Linked DNA regions of Homo sapiens: region 1 is linked to region 2. Evidence: fine-mapped expression QTL. A gene starts in region 2. The other region holds a variant in brackets. All regions are shown on one strand. Distances are from middle to middle.

The links. PIP is the estimated chance that this variant, and not a neighbour inherited with it, causes the effect. A credible set is the group of variants that fine-mapping cannot tell apart.
Region 1: its variant is the best candidate, but not a certain one, in a credible set for the expression of CEND1 in CD4 T cells (Kasela 2017, PIP 0.65).

What each region holds. Positions count from the first base shown.
Region 1 is chr11:1,654,698-1,660,061 of GRCh38, reverse strand. LOC124902609 (a long non-coding RNA gene) reads left to right here. Exons shown (of 2, transcript XR_007062547.1): 2 at 1-233. Among named protein-coding and RNA genes, the nearest start is that of FAM99A, 8.2 kb to the left of the region's middle. RefSeq lists an enhancer at 4,645-5,249. The variant G/A (reference allele first, on the strand shown) is at 2,267.
Region 2 is chr11:787,048-792,411 of GRCh38, reverse strand. CEND1 (cell cycle exit and neuronal differentiation 1) reads left to right here and starts at 2,322. Exons shown (of 2, transcript NM_016564.4): 1 at 2,322-2,382; 2 at 3,754-5,297. The coding sequence starts at 3,836. The coding sequence ends at 4,285. It overlaps SLC25A22 (solute carrier family 25 member 22), which reads left to right. Exons shown (of 10, transcript NM_001191061.2): 8 at 1-108; 9 at 195-270; 10 at 344-1,937. The coding sequence ends at 497. RefSeq lists a silencer at 2,182-2,411.

The sequences.
Region 1 (5,364 bases), 870 kb before region 2:
GAGAACATGGTCTGCCTCCCATCTCTCCCCTTTGTGGGCACCTCAGTGGCCTCCTGCTGCGCTCCGAACAAAAGCAAGAGACCCTGCTGAACCTGGGATGGGTTGGTAGAAGATGGGCTCCCCACGGGACCCGGGCGGGGGACAGCCCCCTCAGCCTCACGGCTTCCCAGACAGAGCGAAGGTGTCCTTCCAGTCTCTCCACATGTCATCTTAAATAAAGTTAGTTAATTCCATGCCTGTGGTTCTGAACCTCCTTTGTCTAATTGCTTCTGGTAATTCCATCCTCCAGCCGCCGCGGCAGGGGAACATTAAGTGGGGCTACCAGGTTTTGTGGGTGTTGTTTTTGTCCTGGGTGCCAGTCCGCGCATGAACAATGTCCTTATCTGATGGGAAGGGGCTGCTGCAGCCACAAGCACAGGCCCCCGCCCCGCAGACAACGCGGCTTCCTTTTCCTGACTACACTCGACCGGAACACACCAAACACCAGACACCTGCTCTCCGTTTGTGAAATGCTCAGCTCTTCTTTTCTATTTCTTTAATTTATGTTTTTTGGGTTTTTGTGGTTGTTGTTGTTTTTGAGACGGAGTCTCGCTCTGTCGCCCAGGCTGGAGTGCAGTGGCGCGATCTCGGCTCACTGCAAGCTCCACCTCCCGGGTTCACACCATCCTCCTGCTTCAGCCTCCTGAGTTGCTGGGAATACAGGCGCCCGCCACCACGCCCGGCTAATTTTTTGTATTTTTAGTAGAGACAGCGTTTCACTGTGTTCTCCAGGATGGTCTCAATCTCCCAACCTTGTGATCCACACACCTCGGCCTCCCAAAGTGCTGGGATTACAGGTGTGAGCCACCGAGTCTGGCCTAATTTATGTTTTTATCTTTACCAACTTCTTTCTTTAAAAAAAGTATGGTTAGAAATTTTGGTTTTCATTTTTCTAGACATTATTTTTACCTAAAAGAAAGGCCCACAATAGGCATGCATCTTTTTCAACTTTATTTATTTTATTTTCTTCAATGGATTACTTCCTTTAATTATAAAAGGAATACCCGACCATTCTTACTGGGTAAACAATAGGGGGTACAAAAATTAAAAGCGAAAAACTTCCCCCAACCCCTTCTCGTCCTGATCCTTCCGCTGTCAGTGTGAACACCTCTTAGTGTCTGTTTCACCCACTGTCTGTGCTCATGCTCATAAACCTGCAGATTTCTTTCTTATTTTTTTTTCTTTTTTTTTTGAGGCGGAGTCTTGCTCTGTCACCCAGGCTGGAGTGCAGTGGCACGATCTCAGCTCACTGCAACCTCCGCCTCCCGGGTTCACGCCATTCTCCTGCCTCAGCCTCCCGAGTAGCTGGGACTACAGGTGCCCGCCACCACACCTGGCTAATTTTTTGGATTTTTAGTAGAGACGGGGTTTCACCGTATTAGCCAGGATGGTCTCGATCTCCTGACCTCGTGATCCGCCCACCTCGGCCTCCCAAAGTGCTGGGATTACAGGCTTGAGCCACCGCGCCCAGCCTAACATGGGACGGTTGTAACATCAATATGTATATGCACCTCCTTTTTTCCATCAGCTTCCACGGTTACGTTGGATCGTCGTGAATTCGGCGGTCACCTGTTGATGGAGATCTCAGCATTTCACGTCGTGTGTTTGGCATCGTTTTGTTGTTTCTGTGACACTGAAGGCAGTGCCAGTGCCCTTGTTCATGCACCTTGTGGTGACAGGGCGCAATTCAGACTAAGGCCCAAAACAAGATGGAAGAGCCACAGGGTATTTACATTCTGAACTTAAAAGATGAAGACAAAATCTTTGTAGAAATATGGGCTGGGTGCCGTGACTGATGCCTGGAATCCCAGCACTTTGGGAGGCCGAGGTGGGTGGATCACGAGGTCGGGAGTTCGAGACCAGCCTGGCCAACATGATGAACTCTTGTCTCCACTAAAAATGCAAAAATTAGCCAGGCATGGTGGCGGGCGCCTGTAATCCCAGCTACTTCGGAGGCTGGGACAGGAGAATTGCTTGAACCCGGGAGGTGGAGGCTGCAGTGAGCCGAGATGGCACCACCGCACTCTAGCCTGGGCAACACAGTGAGACTCCGTCTCAAAAAAAAGAAAAGAAATATGGGCAAATAATACACACAGGAAACTTATATCTTACAGGAAACACTCATGGCCAATGTGCATGCAAGAAAGTTAGCAGCCATCACACAAATGCAAAGAAAAACAAAAATGAGGGGCAGTTTCTTCAGGGCTGGTGAGGGGCGGGGAAGGGC[G/A]CCACCAGTCACAGCCGCTAGGGCGACCCACTCACTCCCGGAGACTGCCTTTTTAAAATGATTCTTAGCATTGAAAGCCCTGCATCCCTGGAAATCTCTCATACTTGGGCAGACCGGGCCACTCAAGTGGCTGAGGAACATTCAAACCTTTCTGTTTTGTTTTGAGATGGAGTCTCGCTCTGTCGCCCAGGCTGGATTACAGTGGTGCAATCTCGGCTCACTGCAACCTCCATCTCCTGGGTTCAAGCGATTCTCCTGCCTCAGCCTCCCAAGAAGCTGGGAGTACAGGCATGAGCCATCACACCCGGCTAATTTTGTTTTTGTTTTTTTTTTGTTTTTTTTGGGGGGGGTCTTTAGTAGAAACGGAGTTTCACTATATTGGCCAGGCTGGTCTTGAACTCCTGATCTCAAGTGATTTGCCTGCCTCAGCCTCTCAAGCGCTGGGATTACAGGTGTGAGCCACTGTTCCCGGCCCTATTCAAACCTTTCTCAAGGCATATGTCAGCAACAAGCCCAGACCCCAGCAGCACTCACCTCACCAGCAGGACACCCCACTCAGGCAGGCTGCAATTTTCTTCCTTTCTTTCCTTTCTTTTTTCTTTCTTTCTTTCTTTCCTTCTTTTCTTTTTTTTTTTTTTTTTGAGATGGAGTCTCGCTCTGTCACCCAGGCTGGAGTGCAGTGGCACCATCTCGGCTCACTGCAACCTCCTCCTCCCGGGTTCAAGTGATTCTCCTGCCTCAGCCTCCCAAGCAGTTGGGACTACAGACAATTGCCACCATGGCCAGATAATTTTGTGTTTCTGATAGAGATGGGGTTTCACCATGTTGGCCAGGCTGGTCTCTAACTCCTGACTTCAGGTGATCTGCCCACCTCAACCTCCCAAAGTGCTGGGATTCCATATGTGAGCCACCATGCCCGGCCAGGCTGCAATTTCCCTACATGGCCTGTGTTATTCTGTGATCCTCCTGCGGTGGCTAGAACCAAAATAAATGATGGGGGTGACGGGGACCACGTTAGTTCTCATTCGAATGACAGTGGTTTGCATTTCATATGTTAAGGTCGTGTTCACCACTGGCTCCTGAGAAGCACGATTCCTCATGTTTGAGCAGTTTCCTCCCATCTCTCTTTGGCTTTGGGTTTTGCCATGAGTGGCTTTGGAGTTTTGTCAAGGGCATCTTGGGCACCTATAGAGAAGGTTTGCTATTTTATTTGGTTTTCTGGCAGCTGATCATCTTTCCGGCTAGCACCCTTGTTTCTTTGGGGGAAAACACTTCATGTGTATAGTTTTTGTTACATGAGTATTTTCCTTCCACCACTAAAGGCGAAGAAGCACAGTCCCCCGGCCCCCAGCAGCAGAAGGCAGGTGAGCACGGCAGCCAGCCCCACTTGACAGCCAGCCCTGCTCAGCGTCCCGGATGTGCAGGAGACTGGGACCCTGAACAAGGCTGCTGCCAGGGCAGCATCTGAGTGGGTGCCAGGCATGCTCCTGGCTTCCCCAGACAGCTGTGGTCTTTTACTGGTATAACTCTGCCTAAATCATCCAGGGCCTGTGGACGCTGACCCATGGGGTTGAAGGACACTGCGGCCCCCTCCCAGTCAGAGTGGAAGTGTGTGGAGAGCAGACGACTGCCTGGATTTCAATGCAAACCGCTCAGGGCAGAACTTGCATGGACTCTACAGCTGGCCTGCAGCTGTCCCCTCGGGCACTGGACAAAGTGTCTGCACGAATGTCCTCAGTGACCACAAACCTCTGTGTTGGCTGCATGGACCCACAGCTAGAAGCGGCGAGGTGGGTCCTGCAGCTGTCAGTCCATCCCCGACAGGCGCGTGAGAAATGGCACCTCTTCCAGACTCCCAGGAACCATTCTACACCAGGGACTGGGGGTCCAGAGGCTTCCGTCCCACCCATTGCAGCCCCCCAGGTCTAACAGCACAGATCGCCCACACCTGGGTATAGGAATGACAATAGTGGAGTTGGATCAGGACTCCAGCAGCTACCGCTCCGGGACAGTTGGCTTGCTGGAGCAAATCATTGCGGTGTCTGGTGTCTGCCGGGGGGCTGAGATCTGGGCTGTGTTTGTCCCTATCCAAACAGACAGAACATTAGAATGAGGTTGTCTTTACTGCGTATCCCTGATGTTCGGGAGCCTGTGTGGGCGAGCCGTCACCTCCTGGCACTGCCTCAAGGCGGCACCACCTTGCAGGGTGCCCTGCTGGTCCAGCATGCGGGAGCCCTGGCACCCATCAACCCCAGAATGAGGCACAGCGGGCAGCTGGGGATAGAGCCCGTGGCATCCCAGAGGGTGCTGCCCAGGCATGTCCTGGCACTCTTCTACCTGGATGCCCATGCCACTCAGAGAGGGGCACCATGACTGGCTGTCCTGCTCGAGGAAGGAGGTACCCCAGCAGCACCTCATTCTGTGGTTGGGACGCATTTCCCTGGGATCCAAGGGGCTGTCAGCCCTGGGGGAGGCCCAGGTGAAGGAGCCCACTCGTGGGCCCGGCCCGCAGTGCCCCCACTGTCCCTGGAGGCCCCCTGTGCTCCAGGTGGCCCGGCAGGCTCACGCTCCACAGGGAGCTTCAGGAAGCCCCAGGAGATGAGTATGCAGGGCCCAGGGCCTTGGAGCACAGCCAGGCCTTCTCCATCCACTGAGGAACACTTCTTCCTTTGACTACAAACAATCCCTACTTTCTCCTAAATTTCTGTGGGAAAATAAACTCTTGAGTACGTGACACCAAGTGGCATGAGGCCCCACAGGGTGCACCAGACCCGAAGCCGCGGGTTCCAGGGGGCTCCTGATGCAGGAGGAATGTGACAGTGGAGAAGGCGTGTGCTCCTCAAGGAAGAAGGGGACGGGAATGGGAACAGAGGCACACGCAGGCCACAGCCCCCTACCCCCTGCCCAGCCTCAGGCCTGTCTGTGGACAGCTGCATCCGCCCGGATAACCCAGGCCCTGCTGCGGTCACAGGGAGCCCTGAAATCACAAGGCTGTTATCTTAGTTTATGTTTCCTCAAAAACAGACACTGAGCCAAAGGCTGGAGGGCAAAGCTCACGGGTTGGGGGCGGATTCGGGGAAGCGCAGGGAAGAGGGAGG
Region 2 (5,364 bases):
ACCAGCTGGGCCGCCCGGCGTCCGAGGAGAAGTCGCCTTTCTACGTGTCCTTCCTGGCCGGCTGTGTGGCTGGGAGTGCCGCCGCTGTGGCCGTCAACCCCTGTGATGGTCAGTGCATGGGATGGCGCCCGGCTGGGGATGGGGCGGGACTGAGCCCTTGGCCAGGCTCACACTGACCCGAGCGCCCCTTGCAGTGGTGAAGACGCGGCTCCAGTCACTTCAGCGAGGCGTCAACGAGGACACCTACTCTGGGATCCTGGACTGTGCCAGGTGGGGAGGTCCCACGGCGGGTGGGGCCTGGGGGCCTGCGTACCGGGCTGACCCTTTCGTCCTTCCTCCACAGGAAGATCCTGCGGCACGAGGGCCCCTCGGCCTTCCTGAAGGGCGCCTACTGCCGCGCGCTGGTCATCGCGCCCCTTTTCGGCATCGCACAGGTGGTCTACTTCCTGGGCATCGCGGAGTCCCTGCTGGGGCTGCTGCAGGACCCCCAGGCCTGAGCCCAGCACCCGCTCCACCCCAGCCAGCTGGGCAGGGCCGGTGTGGGGCTGGAGCCAGGCAGCTAGCCCAGGACGGAGCAAGGGAAGACCCCTCCCCAGCCCTCCCGTCGGCAGGGGCAGCAGGGGGCAGGGTGCAGGGTCCACATAGGTGGTGCACACGCAAGCCCCCCGGGGTGCTGCCTGCACCGTTGGGATCAATGTCTCATTTATGTAGAAAATGCAGAAATCTTTACATTCCTCAAGCTAGCCCCTGCCCCAATCCTGCCCTGGCCTGAACACCCCCAGGGACAGAGCTGGTCTCTGGGCTGGGGGCCCCCGGGCCTGGGCCGGGCAGGCTGGACCATACCCCCAGTCCACCAGCTCCAGTCTCCACAGCCATCCTGGCCCACACAGGCACCCCACACAAACCTATTTATTGAATCTGCTGGACCCAAGCGGCTCTCCAGCCCTTCCGTCCTTCCCCAGCCGCTCTTGTCGCCTTGGCAGGACTTGACTCTGCCTCCCTGGCCAGCCTTGCAAGAGGACTGGGGTCTCCTGCCCTCTCTGTTGAGCCAGGAATCCCAAGTGAGGGGTTGCCCTGAGGTCTGACTCTTGGGGCAAGCCCGCCACCCACTGTGGGACTTTCTGGTGGGCTCCTCAGCTCCCACCCCAGGCTGGGGCCCAGATTGTGAGGTCTGTGTGCATGTGTGTGTGTATGTGTGTGTGCATGCGTGTGTGTGTTGTGGGGATCTGGCCTGGCCCTTGGGGATGGGGCTGCTGGGGACTGCCCCCCTTCCCGCCGTGGCCAGGCGCTCTGTGTGCTGTGTGTGCCCCAGGCTCTGTTGACCCCGTCCAGGAACTAACTTACCCAGCTTGGTCTCTCCTGAGTCCTCCACCCTGGCCTGGGATTGGCCAGGGAGCAGGGCGGGCATTGGGACCAGTGTGGAGCCTGAGGGTGCCTGCCCTGCTCTGGAGGGAGGGCCAGGAGCTGCCACACCCCCAAGTCCTCTCAGGGCCCACCCTCCTTTTTCAGCCTCTGCATAAGGCCCCTGGGTACACTGCAGAAGCCCCATCCTTCCCGCCTCCGGGCATAAGGCCCCTGACCACACTTCAGAAGCCCCATCCCCCCTGCCACCGGGCGATCCCTGCTGTGAGCCGAAGCTCTCCCTGCCCCGCCCTGGCCATGTGATCGTGTTGGTGACAGACCCTGATGTGCTGGTGCTGTGTCCCCAAAACCGGGGCCCTCCACAGAGGCCCCTTCCCAGCGACACTACCTGGGGCTCAGGCCTGGACCCCCCCAGTTCACGGTTGCTCCTGGGAGCTGCCCCTCCCGTCACATCAGAACCTTGGAAGCTGCTGCTGCTGCTTACAGAATTATATTTTTTTCTTTTGAAGAGTTTTAAGAAGTTGTAACTTTTTGTGTCTTGTCATGTCAGAGAATAAATAAATATTCTAAGTAGATGCTGCTGTCTGTCTGGGGGTCTGTTTGGGGGCGGGGGAGGGCAGTCCCCTCTTCCCATAACTGGCTCCCTTCAGACTGCAGGGCTAGGCCTGCGCACCCACCCACCGACCCCTCACCCACCGACCCGTCACCCACCGACCAAGGGGCACCCTGGCCTAGAGGGGATGCTGAGCGGGACCCGCCTCCTGCCTCTGGCAGTCCCAGATGGGACTTGGACCCCGCAGTTGCTCTCTCGGACCCTAAGTTTCTACCCCTGGATCTAAGGCGGAGCTGGGTTTGCGGATCCCACGGTTCCCGGCGGGGCGGGGCCCGGTCGCCCCTCCCCCTCCCCGCCCTCCTGCGCCGGGAGCAGTGCATTGTGGGAAACTCCCGAGCTCTCCTCCGCGTTCGCAGCCGCCGTCATCCCGCGGAGGAGCGCGCAGCCCCGGGGAGGCCGGAGGACGCGTAAGGCGGGGGGCTCCCGGCGGGCGGGGCGGGCGGGGCGGGCGCGGCGTCCTGCGGGGCGAGGAGGCGGCTCCGGGCCTTGAAGGTCACTGGGTTTGCGCGCGGGCCCCCCAGTTCTCCAGGGCTCAGTTGATCCCGGGAGAGGGAGGCGGCGGCCGGGATGTAAGTGCCACAAATAGCGAGGTTGGGGGGGCAGACCACCTGCTCTTTGCAAACTTGATGCCCAGCAGCTGAGCCCCCCGAGAACTGCAGGGGTGAAGGGACGGCTGGGCTTCCCTGGGAGGTGGCAGCAGCTGGGCCTCTTCTGGAGACGCCCTCATCATGCTGTGACCTTCGGGTGACCTTCAGTGTGGTCAATGCACCTGGCGGGGGGTGGGGAACGTGCCTCCCTTTCTCTGCAGGTCTGGAGGGCATTTCTCATCCTTCCCTGGGAGAGGCAGACAGGCGGCCTCTGGGGCTTTGGGGCAAGACCCACTCAGGTTCAGGGCGGCTGGGCCCCCAGGGCCCTTCCCACCTCTGCCTCGGTCATTGAGAATCTGGGCACCGCCTTTCCCACAGCCCAGAACCCTGTCCTCCGCCCTGACCCGCGGGCCAAGTGCAGCATGTGCCCACCCTGTTTAACGCCAGGAACCCTCTGCCCACAGAGACAGCACAGCCTTGGGCTGGGCGAGGACTCCCTGCTCCAGGGCTGGAGGCAGGCACGGCCCATGCTGAGGAGGGGGCCCCAGAGGCTGGGGAGGGGCAGACGGCCCTTGGAAGCACAGCCCCACGCTGACTTCCTGGAGAGACACCCCAGTTTTCTCAAGTCTGGGTTCTTGTGGGCCCACCCACCCTGATGGCTGCCTGAGATCCCAGCTCCTGCCCCTCCCCGCCCTCCTCCCCCTGGGACCCTGGCCAGGTCACAGCCTCCGTGCTTTAGTGTCCATCTCTGCAAAGCAGGAATGCTCTCCTGAGGAGGGGATGCAGTCAGCTCTCCCACTGGGGCTCCGATCACCTCCTTGGAGGGGAGAATGCTCTTCCTTCGAGTTCTCTGGGCCTGATCCTTACTTCCCCACCAAGAGCCTCCTGCCCCCGGCTGGTGGGAGGATGTGGCATTTGCATGGGCCATTTTATGGAGCACAGTGGGGTCCCCTACCTCCTCCCACCTGTGCGTGGCCCTTGCCTCTGCGGCTGGAGGGGCCCCTTGAGGAGTGGTCATGGACAGATGGAGTCCAGGCCGTGAAAGAGAAGTGTCAGAGGCCCACGGGAGGCCCCTGAGCTGGGGCTCCAGAGAGTCCAGAGAACTGGGCAGGGGCTGCCTGGGGACCAGGTGGTCGGGGCAGCACAGGGGGGACTGGACCCGCGCGCAGCCTCCCTTGTGTCTCCCTCCAGGCCCATAGAATGCCCAGGGGCGACAAACTGTCCTGAGCCCCTCTGGTGCAGCCACCTGCCTGTCCCATACGCCCCGCCCACCATGGAGTCCAGAGGGAAGTCAGCCAGCAGCCCCAAGCCCGACACCAAGGTGCCCCAGGTCACCACCGAGGCCAAGGTACCCCCGGCAGCCGATGGGAAAGCCCCCTTGACCAAGCCCTCGAAGAAGGAGGCCCCGGCCGAGAAGCAGCAGCCGCCAGCAGCCCCCACCACGGCACCTGCCAAGAAGACCTCGGCCAAGGCCGACCCTGCCCTTCTCAACAACCACAGCAACCTGAAGCCAGCCCCCACGGTCCCCAGCAGTCCCGATGCAACCCCGGAGCCCAAGGGTCCTGGGGACGGGGCGGAGGAAGATGAGGCTGCCAGTGGGGGGCCTGGGGGCCGAGGTCCCTGGTCCTGTGAGAACTTCAACCCCCTGCTGGTGGCTGGGGGTGTGGCCGTGGCAGCCATAGCCCTGATTCTCGGTGTGGCCTTCCTGGTCCGGAAAAAATAATACCTGGGGGCCAGGCGGGGGGCACGGAGCCACTTCCTGTACAGACCCGAGGAAGCCAGTGCATGCAGAGTTCACCCTTACCTATTCGTACACACGCACATTCATTACACACCTACATACGCCCCCAACACACGCGCACGGTGAAGAGGACGCCCGAGCCCACCCCTGCTGACCCAGGACTTCCCCAACCTCCAGGGCAGAAAGAGCCCAGGCTCCGGGGTCCACAGCACAGGATGTGGGGCGAGGGCACAGCTGGGGAACGGCAAGAAAGGAATGGACCCTGTGTGTGGCCCCCCCCACCCCTGGCGGCTGGGTGATCCTGGGCCCCCAGGGCTGGTCTGAGTGCAGGTGGGGGTGCCGGGATGGGTTGGGCCTGGGCCCGGCCCTCGTGGGGACATTAAAGGGCGCGGTGGCTCCACTCGCCCCATTTCTGCTCTTTGCGTACCCCCCGGGGGTCTGCCTGGGCGAATGCAGTGGGACGGACCTGGGGTGGGCACTCACCTCAGCAGAGCCTCAATGCCACCTCCCCACACCACCCAAGCCTAGCTGGGTGGGAAGACGGAGCCCTGAAGCCTGCGTGTGGAGGGGGTGCTGCCCAAGGGTCGCCTTCCCCAGCTTGTGCTCCAGGGGAGCCCCGACGCCGGCGGGGAGGCAGGGATGTCGAGGGCCCCTCACAGCTGTGCCCGCCCTGCCCCGCTAGACTGCCCCTCCAGCTTGCACCCAGCACCACCTGAGTCTAACCAGCGTATAATGCAATAACAGGTAGAGTAGAACTGCTTTTGGCGGCGACCGTCACACACTGTCCTCAGCCCACTGCACCTGGGGAAGCCCCTCGTGCAGCCCCTCCTTAGCACATCCAGTCCCAGCGTGGCCCTTGGCGCGCAGCAGCAGGCGAACTCCCAGAAGGTGGTGGTGGGCACTGTGAGAACGTGGCCTGCCCTCACTGGCCAGTGGCCACAGGAACCCCGGGCCTGAGTGGAGGCTGAGTCTGAAATAAACTCTGTCGTCTGAAGGCTGCTCTTGCATCCTCATCTGCATGTGGCTGGGAGACGCAGGGTCGCATGTGTCACGCCCACACC